2 separate regions of the Homo sapiens genome follow, and region 2 is linked to region 1. The links come from fine-mapping of genetic effects on gene expression. A gene starts in region 1. The other region holds a variant in brackets. All regions are shown on one strand. Distances are between the middles of the regions. Region 1 holds the start of RHOBTB2 (Rho related BTB domain containing 2). Region 2 holds the start of TNFRSF10C (TNF receptor superfamily member 10c).

Evidence for each region. PIP is the estimated chance that this variant, and not a neighbour inherited with it, causes the effect.
Region 2: its variant is fine-mapped to the expression of RHOBTB2 in esophagus mucosa (GTEx, PIP 0.93).

Annotation. Positions count from the first base shown.
Region 1 is chr8:22,995,046-23,004,205 of GRCh38, reverse strand. RHOBTB2 (Rho related BTB domain containing 2) reads right to left here and starts at 4,658. Exons shown (of 10, transcript NM_015178.3): 1 at 4,101-4,658. It overlaps RHOBTB2-AS1 (RHOBTB2 antisense RNA 1), which reads left to right and starts at 4,401. Exons shown (of 2, transcript XR_007060857.1): 1 at 4,401-4,527. RefSeq lists an enhancer at 1-451 and silencers at 3,949-3,998, 4,329-4,498, 4,719-4,978.
Region 2 is chr8:23,100,571-23,110,269 of GRCh38, reverse strand. TNFRSF10C (TNF receptor superfamily member 10c) reads right to left here and starts at 7,349. Exons shown (of 5, transcript NM_003841.5): 1 at 7,089-7,349. The coding sequence starts at 7,148. LOC254896 (a long non-coding RNA gene) reads right to left here. Exons shown (of 4, transcript NR_046173.1): 3 at 9,586-9,633; 4 at 6,712-7,573. RefSeq lists an enhancer at 6,475-7,284. The variant A/C (reference allele first, on the strand shown) is at 5,435.

The DNA of each region.
Region 1 (9,160 bases):
CCACCTGTCCCCTTCCTGCTCCCACGATCCTCCAGCTGTGCGTCTGGATGAAGGAGACCTACGCGAGATCACCAGTGGAGCTTGCCGAGGCCCTGCCCTGTCCCCTCTCCAGAGAGGGCAGCTCACTCATCTGCTCTCCTCCTCCTTCCCCGGCAGAGCAGTGGCAGCAGAACAACAAACAGCTGAGAGAAGCAGAGTCGGCCACGTCCCCACCCCTTCCCAGCATGCCTGAGGGCAGGGCACTTTAAAATTTAATGGACTTGTCAGAACTGGGCAGCAGCTCTCCTGGCCTCCACTCTTTCCCTTGCCCTCTCTGGTGGTGGTGGATTTCCAAGCCCTAGCCTGCCTAAGTGCATGCTTCAACCCCAGACCCCAGTCCCCTTTATGGAGATGCAAGAGTTTTTCCTCCCAGCCTCTCTAGGATGGGGAGGTTCCTGGATGCACCTGACCAGCCCAGGGGCCTCCCTTTCTCTATTCGGGGTCTGTCCTGTTGCCCATGTGTCATGCTCAGCTACAGGTCCAGCTTTCAGATGCGGGTGAGGGGAACCACAGGCCTATGATGATACAGTCAGTGGCCAATGGGCCTCTACTTCCCCTACGGGGGGCTGTCCTCCCAGCACCCTGCCCCCAGCGTCAGAGAGTGAGATCCACCTCCACCCTCTTCTGCCCTTCCCATTCCTAGGGAGGATGATCCTCAGGCTGAAGATCCCAGGCAGCTGGCACTCCTAGGTGATGTTCACTAAACTGGCTACATGGGCGATGGGATTGCCAGAAAGCAAAAGATCAGAAATTTGAGCCTGAATTTCTGGGCAAATGCTTGCCTCAGTTGCCTTCGATGTTGAGCAGAGAGGAAGTGGCTTGTCCACCCCCAGAGAGGGATGGCTTGAATGAACAAACAGAAGGCACTTCTGTAGTCAGATGTCATGTTCGTGTTTAAAAATCTGTCGCCAGGAGGCCCTGGCCTCGGCATCCACCCTCCTGGGATTAGGGAGCAGGGGCAGGGCCAGCGTGATTAGGACGCTTGGTTTCGCCAGCGTCATCTGCCCGCCCCACTCACATTCCTGTGTGTATGAAAGTCGTCTGGGGGGGCTTTAGCAGCCCGGAGTCATCCCTCCTAGGCTAAGGAAGGCTGAGCTCTGAGTGCTGGAGGCTGCCCAGGCACCCTGGCTGCTGAGCCATCCAGCCCAGAGCCAGGCCACCAGCAACAACAGGGAGGCTCCATTCCTGCTGGGCTGTAACTGGATGCCAGCATGCAGGGATGCAGACCGAAATATCCAAGTAACGATAGCAACTGGGATCCGTGCGAGTGGATGCATCTCAGCAACCTAAGCAAAAAGTGCAGCAAGGACTTCTCAATGAGACAACCTCCTCCGCCTTTTTGGAATGTTACAGGATCTGGACCCTTCAACGAGGTCTCCATGCAGTGCCCTCATGGTCTCCAGGGCAACTGTACCACCCCTTCTCTCTCCTAACCCTCCCTCAGCAGACAACCGTTTTTTGTTTTTGTATTTTTTTGAGACGGAGTTTTGCGCTTGACACCCAGGCTGGAGTGCAGTGGCATGATCTCGGCTCACTGCAGCCTCTGCCTCCTGGGTTCAAGTGATTCTCCTGCCTCAGCCTCCCAGGTAGCTGGGATTACAGGTGTGTGCCACTATGCCGGCTAATTTTGTATTTTTAGTAGATACGGGGTTTCGCCATGTTGGTCAGGCTGGTCTTAAACTCCTGACCTCAAGTGATCTGCCCGCCTTGGCCTCCCAAAGTGCTGGGATTACAGGCGTGAGCCACCACACCTGGCCCAGAGAACTGTTAAGAACTGTTATTCTAACCACAGGCTTCCTCCTCCCAATTCTCTCTCCTGAACTGAGGACCGGGAACCCCACTTTGACAGTTCCTGATCTCAAGTTGAGGAATGTGCTGGCGCCAGGAGGCAGCATCTGGGCTGTGGTTTCTGTTTTGTCGAGTGAATACCAAAACAGATATAATCCCAAATACAAAATATGTGCAGCTGGAGGATAAAGATTAAAACCCAAGAGCCAAAAGAACTTCTTTCTCAAGTTCCGATTCTCCCAGCATGTAGGTCTGTAGACAGAAGCGGGGGAATGAGGAGGCCTAATGGAGGGATGCCAGTTCTCAAATTCAGGAGCACCTTGACAGTGAGAATAATGCCAGAACACCAGCAGAGCAGTGCTGGGCCAAGTTCAGCTACTTTGTGATGAAAACACTGCTGCCCACCTGTGCTATGTCACCTCTAGAGTTAAGCAGTGGTCAGCCAATCAACAAGTGGAAATTGACAAATACTGTGCCATGAGTTTAGACATCAGACCTTCTGGGTTGCGCAACCCCTTCCATCCATTCCCCAGCCCCTTCAGCAGTCCCCTTGTCCTTCAGCTGCCTCTCTGTTTGTATCATCTCACCCTTTCTACCCTGTCCCAACTGCCTGACTGGCAAACTTCACTGTCCTATCTAGGAAGAGGCAAGTCACTTATATTTTCTGGGCATCAGTCTCCCCCTCTGGGAAATGGGTATGAAGACATTGGAAGAGTCTCCTGAACCGTGGTTAATTTGTGCCAAGAGAGGCTGGGCTGAAAGGAGGTATTTGTCTTCTTATGTAATGTGGTATTATATAATGCTAGATTGCATATCTATATGTGTAATTATATCTGTCTTTAAGATACAGACTGGCCCAATTCAAGTGTTAGAACTCTTAGTCTAATCAGGCCTGTCTTAAAGGAGGATCCTGTCCTGGAGAGAGTGTGCCAAGAGTAATATAATTTTTGCCCTAGGATGTTGCTGATGTTGTATCATTGCTGATGTATGGTGATACAGCCCACTCATTGCTGATATATGGTGATACAGCCCATTCAGTGAGCCTCTCAGCTTCCCCTCTCCCTCCGGCTCTCTCTTCTTCCCTGACTCCAGACTCTCCCTCACAATTGCCTCATCCCCACTCAATCAACCTCCATAAACTATGACCTCCTCACCACCCAGCCCTGGGCATCACAACCCCCAACTCACTCCTCTTCCATGACAATCGCAAAGTCACTGGCATGTGTTCCTTCCATCCCTGTCCCATGATCCCTGTGCCCCTCCAAAAACAGCCTCCTGCCCACCGCTCTCCCAGCTCTTTGTACTTGGTGCAAGCCAAAACCCAAGGTGTGCTGAAATTAGCTACAAACCTCGTGCTCTCCCAGTCCCACCCCCACACCCCTACACACACTCTTTGCAGAGCTCAGAAAGGGCCCCTTTCCCTCCCACAGCTGATAGGAGGCTTGTTCATCTGTGGCTGCCCTAGTCTGGTTGTCAAGGAAACAACAGAATCTCCCTGGGAGCCTGGCTTGTCTCCTAGCAACCAGTATCCCACATCATCTTACAAAATGGGAATGGGAGGAAAATCCTGAAAATGAAGGTAAAATCAAGGGAGATGGATTGAATGGAGAATTGGAAGGAGAAGAACAAAGAGAGAGTGGACTCCTAATTCGGGGAGGCTCCCACGGGGGTCGCTGGCATTGCAAGAAGCCCCGTGCAGATCCAACAGAAAGCAAGGCCCAAAGGGACCCTGAATGGTCAGATTAAAGAAATGCAAGCCTAAACACAGATAAGCCCCCTCAAACCTAAAATGTGGACACATCACCAAACACCGCCAAAGATCTCCCCAGTAGTTTCACAGAACTCAGTTACATAGACTGCAATGGAGTTGAGTTCAAAGAACCAGCTCCGGAACCGCCAGCAAAACACCCCAATTCCACTGTTGTTTTGTGTTTGTTTTCTTAACAGAATCACTCCCACCACTCTGGACCGTTTTTCCTTTTTTCTGACACGCTACTCTGCACACACACAAAATAGAAATTTAAAAATTTTTAAACATCGAGAAGGGGGAGGGGCACGACAGGCCGAAGCAATCAAGTCATCTTCCTTTCCCTAGAAACACCGGAAAGGATTAGGCTCCAGCCCCGCTGTACCCAGCAGCCGAAGCCAGAGCCCAGGGACTAGCGGGGCCCGGGGAACGTAGCGAGGGGCGCGGCAGGGCAGGGAGGGCGGAGCGGCGCGTCTGCAAGGGCTGCTGGCCACCCCGCCATAACCGCAAGCAGCCATCTACTTACACCACTACATGTGACGGGGTGGCTTCTAGCGTGAGGAACACATCTCTTCCTGCTGAGCACGCTCATTTTAGTGAAATGTCAGGGGTCCCTCCGCGCCTGCAAGTTGGGACGACGCCGGCGCCGCCGCGCTGCTGCTGGGCTCCAGCCTCCCGGCCAGCTCGCGGCCACTCAGAAACTCCGGCAGGGCAGCCCAGGCCGGACGTGGGCCCAGGAGCGGACGCGCGCGCTGCACTGCAGCCGCTGCCCCTTCCGGATCAGCATCGCCCCGCGCGCCAGGCGCCCAATGTCACGGCGGCGCGCGGAGCCGGGCTGCGGAGGCAGCGGGCGGCGCGCAGGGGCGCCGGGAGAGGGGCGAGGCCGCCGCCGCTACGCGCCCGGGCCCGCGGCGAAGGCGCTGCCGCGAAGACGCCTGGCGCTGCAGTCCCAGGTACCGCTCGCGACCTCCTTTTTTCATTCACAAAAAAAGGATAGGGAAAAAAAAAAGAAAAGAAAAAAACGGGAGGGTAAAAAAAGGAGGAGAAAAAAATCGCACCCAAGACGACAGCCGTGACGGGCCCCGCCCACTGCCGCGCGCAGTTGGTGGAAAGCGTTCGGGGGGCGGGGAGGGGGCGGGCGGGGGAAGAAGGGGATTGGACGCCCCGCAGATCCCGCCTCGCAGCACCGCTCCCGCCCACCGCCCGCGCTCTTCCGCCCCTCCCGCAGCGACGCCGCGGGGAGGGTCTCGGCTCGCGGGTCTGGGTGGCGCCGGTCCCTCCACCTGGCGAGGCGCAAAGGCTCTCCGGACGCCCACGGGGTTTTCCCCTTTCCTTCGGGAGGCGGGGGAGAACCTCTGAGAGGCATCCTAGTGCACCCTGGAAGGGATGCTAGTTGGAGGAGAACGTGTGGTTGTAAGCCCAGGCCCCCACCACTTGCCCACGGGGAGGCGACGGCAGGGGCAGTCGGGGGGGCGGGGGGCGGGGGCCGGGTAGGGACGAATAACCGGCGTTTCCATACAAGCCCTCTGCTGCTTTGGGAATTTTCGTGGCACTTGAGAGCCTTCCTCCCTCCATGGCCCTTAATGAGTTGTGGGGTGGGTACCTGTACCACGTTACCTGTCTCCCACCTAGGCCTTCTTCAGCGGGTCCCCACCTCCATCCCATCCCCCTCCTGTTGCCTCCTGGAGTTCAGTAATAGCTGCTAATCTCTGAAAGAAACACCATGAAGTGAGTAGCCTCGAAAATCGTCCCTAAGCCTTCTTTGGGTTTTCTGCCTCAATTTACCCCTCTGTAAAATAGAGAGATTCTAAGGTATAACATCTATAACCTGAGGGGTCCCTAGAAGACACTTTCCATATTCAAGGCTGGTTTTATCAGGATAATCTTTTTTTTTTTTTTTTTTTTTTGAGTCTCCCTCTGTTGCCCAGGCTGGAGTGCAGTGGTGCAATCTTGGTTCACTGCAACCTCCGCCTCTTGGGTTCAAGCAGTTCTGCCTCAGCCTCCCGAGTAGCTGGGACTACAAGTGCACGCCACTATTCCCAGCTAATTTATGTATTTTTGGTAGAGACGGGGTTTCACCACCTTGGCCAGGCTGGTCTCGAACTCCTGACCTCGGGTGATCTGCCTGCCTTGGCCTCCCAAAGTACTAGGATTACAGGCGTGAGCCACCATGCCCAGCCAGGATGATCTTGACTGCTAGTGTTAAGTAGTCAGCTCAGTCTGGTTTGATTCATCTCCTCAGTTACCTCTGGACAATTTTTAAAGCCCAGACCAGCCTGCCACCCACCTGAACCGCCTCCACCACTCCTCCATCTTGTGCTCTGAAAATGCAAATCCACTCTAATATTAGTTTATGCAAAATATGATTAGGAAGAGAAATTTACTGCCAAAAGAAAGCCGGGTTAAAAATGAATTTTGTGTTGTCTGAAGCATGCTTCTCATCTGTGAATGCATATACTTGGAAGCTGTCCCTCAAGGTGTTTGTGATCAACGTGCCTACCTACCTGGTCAATGTACAGGAAGTGCTCGGTTGTTGGAGGATGCTTCTCCCACCCCTTTCTCAATCTACTCAGAGCTAGCCAAGAGGTTAACAATGACTGACAGTGCTACTTACTTCTCATTTCTGGTTAGAACTCACCCTCCATAAACCAGAAAGTACTTATTTGAATACATATTTAGGAGAGAAAGTAAACCATGCTCACACATGTTCTTCCTCCACATGTTTGGCATTGAAGAGACTTACCCCATCTTCTGTGTGCCAAAGAGCCCCTGCGCCAGAGAAAATCATAACTTGAGATCTCTGCATGATTCCCACGGCAGGCCAGGGTCTCTCCCACGGACACCCTGTTCCCTCCACCCACCTCCAGAGACCAGCTGAATGCCAGATGCCAGTTGACATCACCTTTCACCTGTCCTGGCAGGACCATAGCCCCTGTGGAGCAAGGAGTAGGAAGACAGAACTCCCGTCCACCCAAAGTCATGAAGCAGGAGAGGGTGGCTGCTCGGACTGTAAGCTAGAGCCAATGCCCTTTCTGCCTTGGGAGAAAAAGCCAGCTCAGCCTGGAAGCCTCAACCAGGCTGGACTGTGTGAATTCCAAGGTGTAGTGTTGATTGGGGTGGAAGGGTCTTGGACAAAAATGTGGGTGTCAAATGAAATTGCACCCCCACAGCCCCCGCCCCGCCCCGCTCACACTCAGTGAACTGTTTCAGGCAGAGGCAGGAGCTTTGCTGGGGAGGTTCCCTCAATTCCCAGCCCTGCTTTTTGCATGCAGTTCCCTCTTTCAGCCTTTCTCCAAATCAAAGTCCTTCCCCATCATTTCACCTCTAGGGCTGTCATGGTTGGCGCCCCAATCAGTTCCCTCTTATCATCAGAGTTCCTCCAAGTCCCCACCTTCTCCTACCAGTGCCCCCCAGCCCATCCTCTGCAGCCCCTTGTCACTGTCAAGCCGCCCCATCCATGTCCCACCCTAGGCCGTCTGGGGACCTCTGCAGACCTCCTCCTCAGGCCAGCCTGCGAGGAGCTCCAGCGGTTCACTACTCACAGCTCAGATGGCAGCATTCCCCACGCTGTATGAGGGGCAGACCACTAGCAAGCTGCAGCCGCCGGCCTGTGCCCCAGTTGTGGCTAAAACCAGGCCTCTTCCCAGCCAGCCCTGGCCAGGACTGCCCCGGGACCCCCACTCTGCTATTCAAGACAGCCTCCAGCCCCTGGTACCCCAGCTGAGGATCTGGCACGTCCCTTCATCTTTGCCCATCTCTCCAATGCCAGATCCTGGAAAACAGGGCCACTCCCAGAGGCCAGGCTTCCCCACCAGCAAGCAAGGTGCTGTTGGGCCTTCTCATGCCCATCCCTGTCCCCAGCTGTTAGCACCCGGCAGGCAGCAGCGTCTCACAGCACAGGAAGCCTCCCACTCCCTTCACTGCGCCCTCCCACCCCAGGCCCTGAGGAGTCCATTTTCCTCTATTCAGGTGACTTCTCAAGGCAGGCCTGGGTGGGAGACAAAAGCTCCTGGCCTCTTTCTTTCTCTGCCTCCTCCATTCCGTTACATACACAGACACACAGACACACACACACACACACACACACACACACACACACACACACACACACACACACACACACACACACACACACCAGCCCTCTCTGCCCATTTGCTGCAGCTTGGAAACACTGGTGTGATTCCGAGGAGCAGTTCAGCCTGAGCACTGACTCCCCCCATTGCTGGCTTCCCAAATCTGCTTCTGCTGGTGGGTCTGGCAATGTCCTGCCATGTGCCTGGCTGCGTGGCTGTAGCCCAAGGGCTTCCTGGCAGCATGGAGGCAGGTTCCATTCTACAATCTCCTGCCCCTGCCCAACCCCAGCATCTCTTCCCTCACCAAATCCCTCTTGTGACCCACCTCCCCAGTGACATAAACCCCTGGAACCTGTCCCCAGAAGGCACCCCCTCTATGCCTCCCCACACCACCCTCCTCCAGGCCATCACGCGGCTGCTGTTTTCCTGAAGCCGGGCAGATGCCTGCCTGTGAACAGGAGGCTTTTCTGGGGAAAGAGAAACCTCCATCCTGGCTCTTAGCAAAGCGCAGCAGGCTCCCCGGCCAGTCCCACCAGCGTTGCTCTCCCTGTGGCTGTGAAGGCCCCTTCCCAGTGCCAGCCCAACGCAGACCGCCTGGCTCAGTCCATCCTCCAACCTGCACCTTCCCTTTGCTTCACAGGCAGCTTTACCCTTCAACACTTTGCAGGCTACTAACCGCGCTTTCATGGCACCCCTCTCCTGGAACACTACAGCCTCTGCGGAGCCCACCCCATGGGCCTTGTGACATGAGCTCCGCCCCCCATCCCCTGCCATGTGCAGGCTGGGGCACGTGGTGTTCCTACCCTGCAGCTGGGGCAAAGTTCAGAACCAGCCATGAGCAAAAGCAGAGGCATTTCAAGATGCAGAGCCCCAGCAGGGTGAAGGAGCTGAATCTGGAAAGCCTAGAGTCTCTCAGCCTCCCTGTCCAGGCCTTAAGGGACACCATCAGGTCCCCACAAGGATACAGGAAGCTTCTGGGACTTTGCACAAGCAGTTCTTCAGTCCGAACACTCTATTTCTACTCCTTTCACCAGATAAATGTGTACTCATCTTTCAAGTCTCAGCCTAGATATCACTTCCTCCAGCAAGCCTTCCATGAATACTTTCTTACACTTGACAAAGTGTAACTTTCCTGTTCTTCCCCTGTGCTCCCCTAATAATACCAATCACACCAATCTATCATTGGGTTCTTCTCTGTCCTTGATTGTACTGAGAACTCCCTGGGACCGGCAGGGGAGCTTTCGTAAGAGCCAGGATGCAGATTTCTCTTTCCTCAGACAAGGTTCCTGCTCACAGGCCAGGAAGCAACACTATAATGCTTGTTCAGGCCGGGTGTGGTGGCTTATGCCTGTAATCTCAACACTTTGGGAGGCCGAGCTGAGAGAATAGCTTGAGGTTAGGAGTTGGAGACCAGCCTGGGCAATATAATAAGACCCTGTCTCTATTAAAAAAAATTTTTAAAAAAGATAATGCCTATTCGAAAAGGTATTTTGAACCTGGCGCGGTGGCTCAT
Region 2 (9,699 bases), 110 kb before region 1:
AGTGAAGCTAACCCACTTTTCCCAAATCATTCTTTCCCGGGTTGGAGTCCCTCTAGGTTCAGGCGATGTCTGCGTCTCCTTTCTCTGCTCTCACACTCTTACTCCCTCTCATTTAATGAGGGGTTTATTAGTGTTTTTTAAAATCCTTTCAGAAGACCAACTTTTCATTTTGTCTTTTTTTTTTTTTTTTTTTTTTTTTTGGAGACAGGGTCTCCCTCTGTCCTCCATGTTGGAGCGCAGAGTGCAGTGGTGTAATCTCGGTTCACTACAACCTTTGCCTCCTCTGCCTCCCAGGCTCAAGTGGTCCTGCCACCTCAGTCCCCAAAGACAGGTGTGTGCCACAACGCCCATCTAATTTTCACATATTTTGTAGAGCTGGGGTTTCGCCATGTTGCCCAGAGTGGTTTAACTCCTGAGCTCAAGTGATCTGCCTGCCTGGGCCTCCCAAAGTACTGGGATTACAGGCGTAAGCCACCGCACACAGTTGGTTTTCTCAGTTCTTTCTGTGGTTTGTATTCTTTGATTTATGCTCCTTCCTGTTACTTTGTTTGGTTTAAATTTACACTTATATTTTATGATTGATTAATGTAGCTCCTCAGGCCATAATTTTCTTTTTCTTTTTCTTTTTTTTTTTTGAGATGGAGTCTCGCTGTCTCCCAGGCCGGAGTGCAGTGGCACAATCTCGGCTCACTGCAAGCTCCACCTCCCAGGTTCATGCTATTCTCCTGCCTCAGCCTCCCAAGTAACTGGGACTACAGGTGCCCGCCACCACGCCTGGCTAATTTTTTGTATTTTTAGTAGAGACAGGGTTTCACCGTGTTAGCCAGGATGGTCTCGATTTTCTGACCTCGTGATCCACCCTCCTCGGCCTCCCAAAGTGCTGGAATTACAGATGTGAGCCACCGTGCCCGGCCCATAATTTTCACGTTTTTTCTTTTTTTGACAGCTTTAGTGAGACACAATTCACATAATTAATAATTATGATTATTCATATAATTCACCCATTTAAAGTCCACACTTCAGCAGTTTTTAATATACTCATAGCTATGCAATCATCACTATAATCAATTTTAGAATATTTTTATCACTCCAGAAAGGAACTACATACCCTTCAGCAGTAACTCCCCATCTCCCTAACCCCCAGTTTTTTAATACAAACATTGAAAGCTGTATATTTCACCCTGAGCACTGTTAGCTATTTCGCACCACTTTTGATGTGTTATATTGTCATTATTACTTACTTTGAAATATCTTACCTTCCCTTTTGATTTCCTGTCTGAACCACAGATTTTTAGAAGTGTGTTGTTCAATATCAAAATTTTAGAATTCTCTGTGGATATTGTTACTGATTTCCAGTTTAGTTTCATTAAGTTTAGAGATCATATTGTGTGTTTTATAGCCCAGAACCTGGTCTATCTTGGTGAAAGTATCATGAGCATAGAAAGGAATGAGTGTTCAGTGAATGTTCCACTCCTGCTCTTTAAATGTCAGTTAAATCAAGGTGGTTGATAGTGTGCAGATCGCTTGCCACTTTACTGGCATTTTCATCTAATCATGCTAGCAAGTGCAGAGAAACAGCTGAGTTAATCTCTTTTTAATTCTATTTTTGTGTCATGTGTTTTGAAGATGTATTACTAGGCATATACAATTTGTTGTTATTATACTCCTTGAAGAATTAACCCTTTTAACTACAAAGGTCCCTTTTCATCTCCCATAATATTCAATGTCCTAAAATTGTCACAGTAGGCAGCTAGTTAGGTATGAGCAGGACAGGAGAGGGGTCCCCGCTTCTGACACCAGCAGTGTTGGGCGACCATCAGGTAGTTGATAACTGTGTCTCTAAAGTAATAACTGGTTACAGCCGATGCCAGAAAAAAGCAGTTTCCTAATACATAGAAAACACTTGAAACTGATCAGCAGCTTCCCAATAAGATTTCAGGAGTGGGGAGAAGTAAGGCAAGATCCTGGAAGTAGGCCAACCTATAAAACCCCAACTCAGGCGGTCCGGCTGCGTACTGTTTCTCAAGTCACCTGCTTGGCCATCTTCCAAGTGTACTTTCCTTCTTTTCTTTCTGTTCCTTCCTTTCCTTCCTGTTCCTTCCTTTCCTTCCTGTTCTAAAGCTTTTTAATAAACTTTCACTCCTGCTCTGAAACTTGCCTCCATCTCTGCTTCTGCCTTATGCCCCTCAAACCAGTTCTTTCTTCTCAGGAGGCGAAGAGCTGAAGGTGCTGTGGACGCATACGGATTCGCCGCCTTCAACGTAGGGTAACTCGGATCTCATCCACCGCTAACAAAATCAACTTCATCTGATACTGAGATAGCCATGGCAGTTTTCTTGGCCTTACACTCTGCATGGTGTATCTTTTTCCATCTATTTACTTTCAACAGACAACATCTGTGTCTTCCTTTTAAGGCCCATCTCATATAGACAAGATATAGTTGAGTCTTGCTTTCTCAGCCCTTCCAAACATTTCTACCATTGAACTGTAGTGCTCAGTGGATTTACAGGGAGTGCAATAATTGATATAGTTGAAATAGACCTGTAAGTTTACCATTTAAGCTATGATTGTCTAGTCTAATTTTTTTACTCCTTTTCCCCCTGCACATTTTAATGTTAATTACCTTTTAGAATTCCATTTTAATTGGATAAACTGACTTTTTATGCATACCTATTTCCATGATCTATGTGCAAGTGCTATAGGGAATACAGTATACACTCAAGTGTTTACATTCTATTGAAGGTTTTTTAAAAATGGATTCATTGAGGTATAATGGGCATGAAACAAAGTGTACATTTTTGAAGCATGTAGTTTGGTAGATTGAGACGTGTGTATACATTGTGGAACTACCACCACGATAAGAAAATGACATGTCCACCACACCCCAGAATTTCTTCATTCTTCAATGTAATCCTCTCTTCCGCTTTGCTCCTATGTCCCCAGCAATAATTCTGCTTTTTGTCAGAATAGATTGGTCGAATTTTAATGAGAAATGGAATCAGATGGTAAGCATTCTGTGTGGATTCCTTCACACGACATAATTTTCTGTGTTTTTCTGTTTTTCTGTTTGTTTGGTTTTTTGTTGTTGTTGTTGTGACCGGGTTTTGCTATGTTGCCCTGGCTGGTCTTGAACTCCTGGGCTCAAGTGATCTGCCTGTCTTGGCAGGACTACAGGTGTGAGCCATCGCACCCTGCCCACCCTGGTCAATTGACTATTATGAATTAAAGGCTATTGAAAAACAACAGGTGCAAGAAGATCCTTTGACCTCTTTTGTGTTTCCTAAAAGCAGGAGATGAAAGTCCCCAGGGAAACATAGGACAATCTCCTTTTTTTTTTTTTCTGAAAGCTCTGCTTCCCAGGTTCTCACCATTCTCCTGCCTCAGCCTCTCCAGTAGCTGGGACTACAGGCACCCGCCACCACACTCCGCTAATTGTTTTGTATTTTCAGTAGAGACGGGGTTTCACTGTGTTAGCCAGGATGGTCTCGATCTCCTGACCTCGTGATCCACCTGCCTTGACCTCCCGAAGTGCTGGGATTACAGGCGTGAGCCACCGCACCCAGCTGACAATTTCCTTATTTTTAAGGATGAGAAGTCGAGGCCAAGAGGGTACTGTGCAGACCATGTTAGAATGGATCCACTCTCATCTTTTTAGCTCCTCACATAGTTACTTGCTTCTTCATGAGTTACTTGGTCTAATTCAGTAAATAAGTAACTGACTCTCACAGGTTCTTCCATGCCAGGTAAAACTTGAATTAAATAAATGTGTGTGCTTGTCTCCTGTGGACCTCTCTTAGGTGAATCAAATTCTCAGGCCCAGCTAAAAAAAAAAAAAAAAAAATCGGGTGGGGGGGCATCTAAAGGAGAGCTTCGCTCCCCTCCCTGACCCTCAATGGTGACTGTAATCAAACCACATCTTCCAGGCCAACAGTACCACATCCTATGGCCCTGCAACAGCATGGCCTCTCTCCAGCACAGCCTCTCTGGAGGAGGGGGAGGCAAGGGTAGTGAGATCTCAGGCCTCCTTCATGCTACCTCCTATTAGTTATATAATCCCTGGGTCACCTCTCCCACCACACTGCGGGCTCCAGGGAACAGGATTCACATGGGGTTCATTTGTCCTCCCAAACTCCGGCGGACTCCAGGCACAGGTGTTCTCAGAGTAAAGGGCTCACTGTTTACTTCCTGGATGAATCACTTTCCCCTCAAGCCTATGAAGTGCGCGCAGTTGTGGCCTCAGCTCAAGGCCGAAGGACAGGCTCCAAGAGCCCTGTGAACTCTGCTGAGGAACCATAAGAGCTCCCAGAGGCCAAGGGCAGGACAGAGATCAGAGAAGCAGCTGCTCAGAGAACTCTAGCCCTGAATCTCATTTTACCACTTGTAAAACAGGAAAAACAACCTACCTTCATCTCCCCGGGTTGTTAGGAAATCCACTACATGAAGATGTGCATTCTCTGGCTGGAAGCAGGATACCAGCTGCCCAACGGCAGAGGCTCGGGGCATGGCACTGTCCCCACTGTCCCCATCCCTGACCTAGAAGCTAGAGCCTCACTGCCCTGCCACTCCTGGATACACGACAGAGGACCAGAACTGGGACTGTGGCCTCTCAGTACAGCCTGGGTGAGTAGCCATCTGCAGCCACCTGGATGGAGACATTTCCTGCTCACTCTTCAAACTACAACCCGGGCCAGGCGCCTACCAGAAGGACAACTGGAAGCATGGCAGGTAAACCAGGCTGTGGCCCTGCAGTGCCATCGCTGTCCTCACTTGACGTCTGGCTCCTCTGTTCCTCCATGGCCCCTCCCCGTGGTGCTCCACCCTAGTCTTCAGAAGCTTCTGCCCCAAGCTCAGGGAGCAAGTACCAGGGTGCAGGTAGGAACAGGGGCAGCCTCTGCTGGATGGAGGACAGGTGCCTGGGGATCCAGTCCAGAGTGAGTGACACCAGCCCTGAGGATGTGATTTGTCCTCCCACACCTGGTAACACAGCCCTCTGAGGTTTACACAGGGCTGCTGAAGATTTTTACCTCCTCTTCACTTTACAGGCAGGAGCTGGGGCCACACCAGAGTCACAGAGCCAGAGGGGGAGCACGGCAGGGCCCAGCCATTCACAACCTTCAATCTCAGGAGTCCTTGACAGCCTGAGAGTCCGAGATTCTGAGCCGTTGGAACTTCTCAATTCCTACTTTGATAGAGAGAGGAATGGTGTGGAAGGACCTGGCGCACAGATTGGACCAGCCCAGCATTGACAGAGCCAGGACCTGGGGTCAGGAACTGAACTCAGCTCCAGGCTCATCTGAAGTCACCCTGACAGGCTGAGGATGGAGACCTTATCTCCATTCACAGGCATGGTGGGTGGCAGGGACTGGCCCCAACTGACCAGGGTTTTCCAAGTGCACAGCTCAGAATTCAGTCTTCCCTGCTGTCTCATCTGGAT[A/C]CCCTGGTCTACTCCCAGTACCAAAAAACTCCTATATCCTTGAAAATTCCTAATACCATGAGGAAACAAAAATACATAGCAATGTGATGTGTTATGTTTTACATCTTAGACTAGTAAAGAATGAAAGCTAAGTGTAGCAAAGGTGTAGGGACACAGGCACATTTGTGGACTAGGTGTGACTGTAAGCTGGGTTCAGTGGTTTTTTGGAGGAAAATTCGTGAACATTTAAAGAAACTTCTGAAGTCATTTATCCCACAGAAGGAGAAGTAGAATTCAACTTGTAAGGAGTTGCCCAATAAGCTGGTGTGCATGGATATGTGGACACACGATACATACAAGGGTATTTAGTACAATGCTGTTGGAATTAGCAAAGGCCGTCAGGATGGGATCTAACCAGCTGCCCCTAGGCGGCAACAGTGAATTAAAATGTGGCTTACCCATGCAGTAAAATACAATACCCTTGTTTAAAAGAAGATCAATCTGAATGTACTGCCATAAAACATCTAATGTGATTTGTGTTAGCTCCAAAATTTAACAAAGTGATTGTACATTTAAATGCATTTAATAAGGCAAGACTGATGGAGGGATTAAAGCCTCCTTTGGGACGCATAGAGTTCACATTCCCAAAACCGTGAAACTGATGTTGCTGGCCTTGTCTACACTGGTCATCCATGCATTCTCTCTTCAGGGCCACTGTCCTGACACAGCCATTCTTCTAGCTGCCTCAGGTAAGTCCACCCACTATAAACTATTTTAAAAGTCAGTTGTGTAATTTTTGAGAGGTGAAAATGTTACTGCTTTTCTGAATTTAGCATTAATTTGTAGAAAGACAACATGCAAACTCTCATGGTTTCTGTAACCTTGCTTTGGCCTTTTCTTTTTCTTTTTTCTTTTTTTTGTATTACATAAAGAATCTTAAAAAGGGCTGTTAGCAAAAACCTCAATCAATCTGAAAGAGACCTAGAAGTCTGCATATTTTATACATAATATGTCCTTGCACTCACACTACTACCAATCTCAGTTTCCAAAGCCAACTCACAACAACTTTACACCGTTTATGCTGAAGGAAGGGGCCAGCCCCGGTCCTGCCTATGGGATACAGAGGGGACACACGGGTGGTAGTGGAAGACATTAACCAAGGCAGCACCTTGGTTAACCGCTTCCTGCCACATTCCGGCTTCCTGCCACTTTCAGGACAGAGGAGGTGAAAGTTGCTAAAGACAGCGCTGAAAAGTTTTTTCACTGGCTGTTGGTTAAACCGATCTCCAAGGAACACGTTTAAGAATGTAAACATGGGGTTAATTTTATTAACTAATTAATTAATTAATGAGAGAGGCAACCGCTCTGTGTCTTCAGGAGGCTCACTCTATGGGTTCCACCTTGACTCCCTCCCTCTCTCGATTCTGGAACTTCCCTCCCTTCGCGGGCTCGGGGCAGCCAGGGGGACCGCCTCTCTGCTCCCTCGCGGCCGGGTCCCTCCTGCCCAGCCCGGGGACCCAGTTCTTCCCCTGACTCCGACGGCGAGTTCGTCCTGCCCGGACATGCCCGGCCGCAGGTGACCAGGGCCAGGCATCCCTGCCGTGTCCCCGTCTCCCTGCCCCCTCCCGGCGCCAGGTGCGCTCTTCCCCAGCCAGGGACCGCGGCCGGGACTCACTGGCAGCAGGACCGCGACGATGACGACGACGAACTTTAGGGTCTTGGGGATCCGGGCCATGGTATGGTTCCCGACGCCGTCCTGGGTCCTGGGTCGCACCCTGCCTCGGCCATCAGGCGGCCGGGGCGCTCTGTCCCCAGAGTTCCCTAACGGTAGGAAGCGCTCCTTCACCCCTTGCATCTCTGGTCAAACTCCCAAAAATCTATCAGAAATCGTTGGCTGAGTTCGTGCGCGTGGAGAGGTTCCCACAGCTGCACTGCCAGAATCGGAGCGCAGCGCCTCTGAATTTATACCCGCGGGGGAAAAGGCGTGGTCACTTGTCACTTGCAGCAGTCACTTCCAAGCACTCAGAAAAGGGGCATGGCCTCCCCTAGCACCTCCAGGAAGGCCTGGGTTTTGGTGGTGGGTGCATGGACGGACAGGAACTGGCTCTTTCCGGCAGCGGTGACCCAGGGCCTGCGGTTTGATTCCGGGTCCTGTCCAGGCTGTAGGCAGCAGAAGGGGAAGGAGCTGAGGCGCTGCCCACTGCGCTGCTGTAGTCTGGGTAGTGAGCTCCAGAGGAGGCACTGGAGGCCCATCCTGAGCCTGCTCCCTCCCCGGGACGCCTGTCTCTCCTCTTCTTAAACCCTGAACTACCTCCTGGCCTAAGGACTTCAGTCCACTCTTAGCTTCTGCTCCCACTCCCTCCTCCCACAGCGGCCTCACTGACCAGTGCACTGATGCCACTGATGTCTCCAGCCTCCTTGCTGCTGTGACCCAGCTCCAAGCTTCTCTGGCAGGGGCTTGGTATCCCTCAGTAGCGGGTGCCTGGCACCAAGGAGGGGCCCAGTGAACACATGAGTGGACAGAATGAAGGACACAGGGGCCATGACGGGCACATGCAGAGGCTGAGGAGTAGGTAGGAGGGAGAGGAACCCCGGGGGCATCCCTAGCCACAACCTGGCACCCTTTGCATGGTCGAGGCACAGACACTCTCTGGCCGACCTTGTGGGCTCTAGTATTGAGGCCCCATGGACAGAGGAGGCCCAGGGGAGTGGCTTCCAAAGCCTGTCCCCCAGTCAAGTGTCTATCCAGGTCCAACTATCTGACCTTGGGCTACTCACCTCCCCATTGAGTTAAGCACACTGCTGCTGTGTGGAGAGATCCAATGTGTGGTACTGAAGGGTGCCAGCCTGTGACCCTAGGCAGTAAGGTCAATGGCACAACTCCTAGACCCTTGGGGTGAGTCGGCTCCTGACCTCTCACATGGTGGATAAAAGAGGATAGCACTATAGAAACAAAGATTTTTTTTTCTGCTCATCAGAAACCTGGGAATGATATGTCATCCTCTCCACAGGCTTGGATTTGAGCAATGGAGTGCCCTGGGCACCTGCCAGGCCCCAGGCACTGAGTTCGGATCAGAAATGTGTGCCAGGTCGCAGGCACTGAGAAATGTGTGGAGTCAGGAATGTGTGCTGGGGGCAGATCTAGGCAGGAGGTGAGAGGACAGGACTTCAGGAAGACTGACAGCATTAACACAGAGCCACGAGGGCCTGCAGGAAAGTCTTTAGAGCACTCCAGGCCCCTTGGCCCTGGAGGGTGGACTACACAGTGTAGACTAGAAACCAGACTGCAGGTAACACACATTCTCTGTGCCCTGTGTGGAGCACTGCCTAGGGCTAATGGCAAAAGGCTGTGAGCACCTCCAGGGAACTGGGCCTTTAGACTATAAAGTTTCCATTTGAGAGGCACTTACTAGCTTACGATGGAACACTAGCTGAAGCTCCCCCTGTGACTGAAGGACATAAAATAATCTTGAAACCTGAAAAACTCATGATGTCTTCAGAGATCTTGGAAAAGCTCTAACGGGGAGGGCAGTCCCCGAAGAGTTCTATTACAAAATGGAAATGGTTGATACGGGATCCTGGTGCCTGAGGAAGGCAAAGAGGAGACACTCATGAGCAGGGAGCCTCTGTTCCCCACAGACTGAGTCTGGAACTGAGTGAGGAGCTGCTGGATTCTGTGGTCACTTGGACACTGCCCTATACGCAGCTCTTTACTGACCAACCAAGAGCTACTTAGTTTGTAGACAGTCATTCCTAGGTGAATGGTCAACATCCTATTTGGAAGGCCACCCCTCTGATGGAAGAAGGCAAAGGCAAATTGGCTAGGTGGGTTGGATTGCATGCTGTTTTCCTAGCGTGATGGAAGATTTGACAGCAGCAAAAGCCCCTGTACTTGAGTTGTTTTCTGGCTCATGAACAGTCCTCAACGTCTTGGTCATAGAGTTGGGAAGCAGAATGTGAAAGTTGATTGCACAAATTGGGTCATTCTTGTCACACCCAACTAAAACAGAGTCAAGAGGCCATGGGGAAGAAAAATCACTGTATTACCCCCAAACTGCAATTCTCTGTAAGCCTGGCAGCTGTAACCTGAAACTATTAATAGTCCTATCTAATATCTATGGACATAACCTGCTACTGCTCTAAGACCAGCCTGACCCACTGCAGTCACTCACCAGTCAGAGCACGCCTCTTCTTCAAATTTGACAGTGCCAATGAGCTTCCTAGAAAAAAAAATAATTAGTATTTCTCCTTTTTTTTTTTTTTTTTTTTGAGATGGAGTCTCGCTG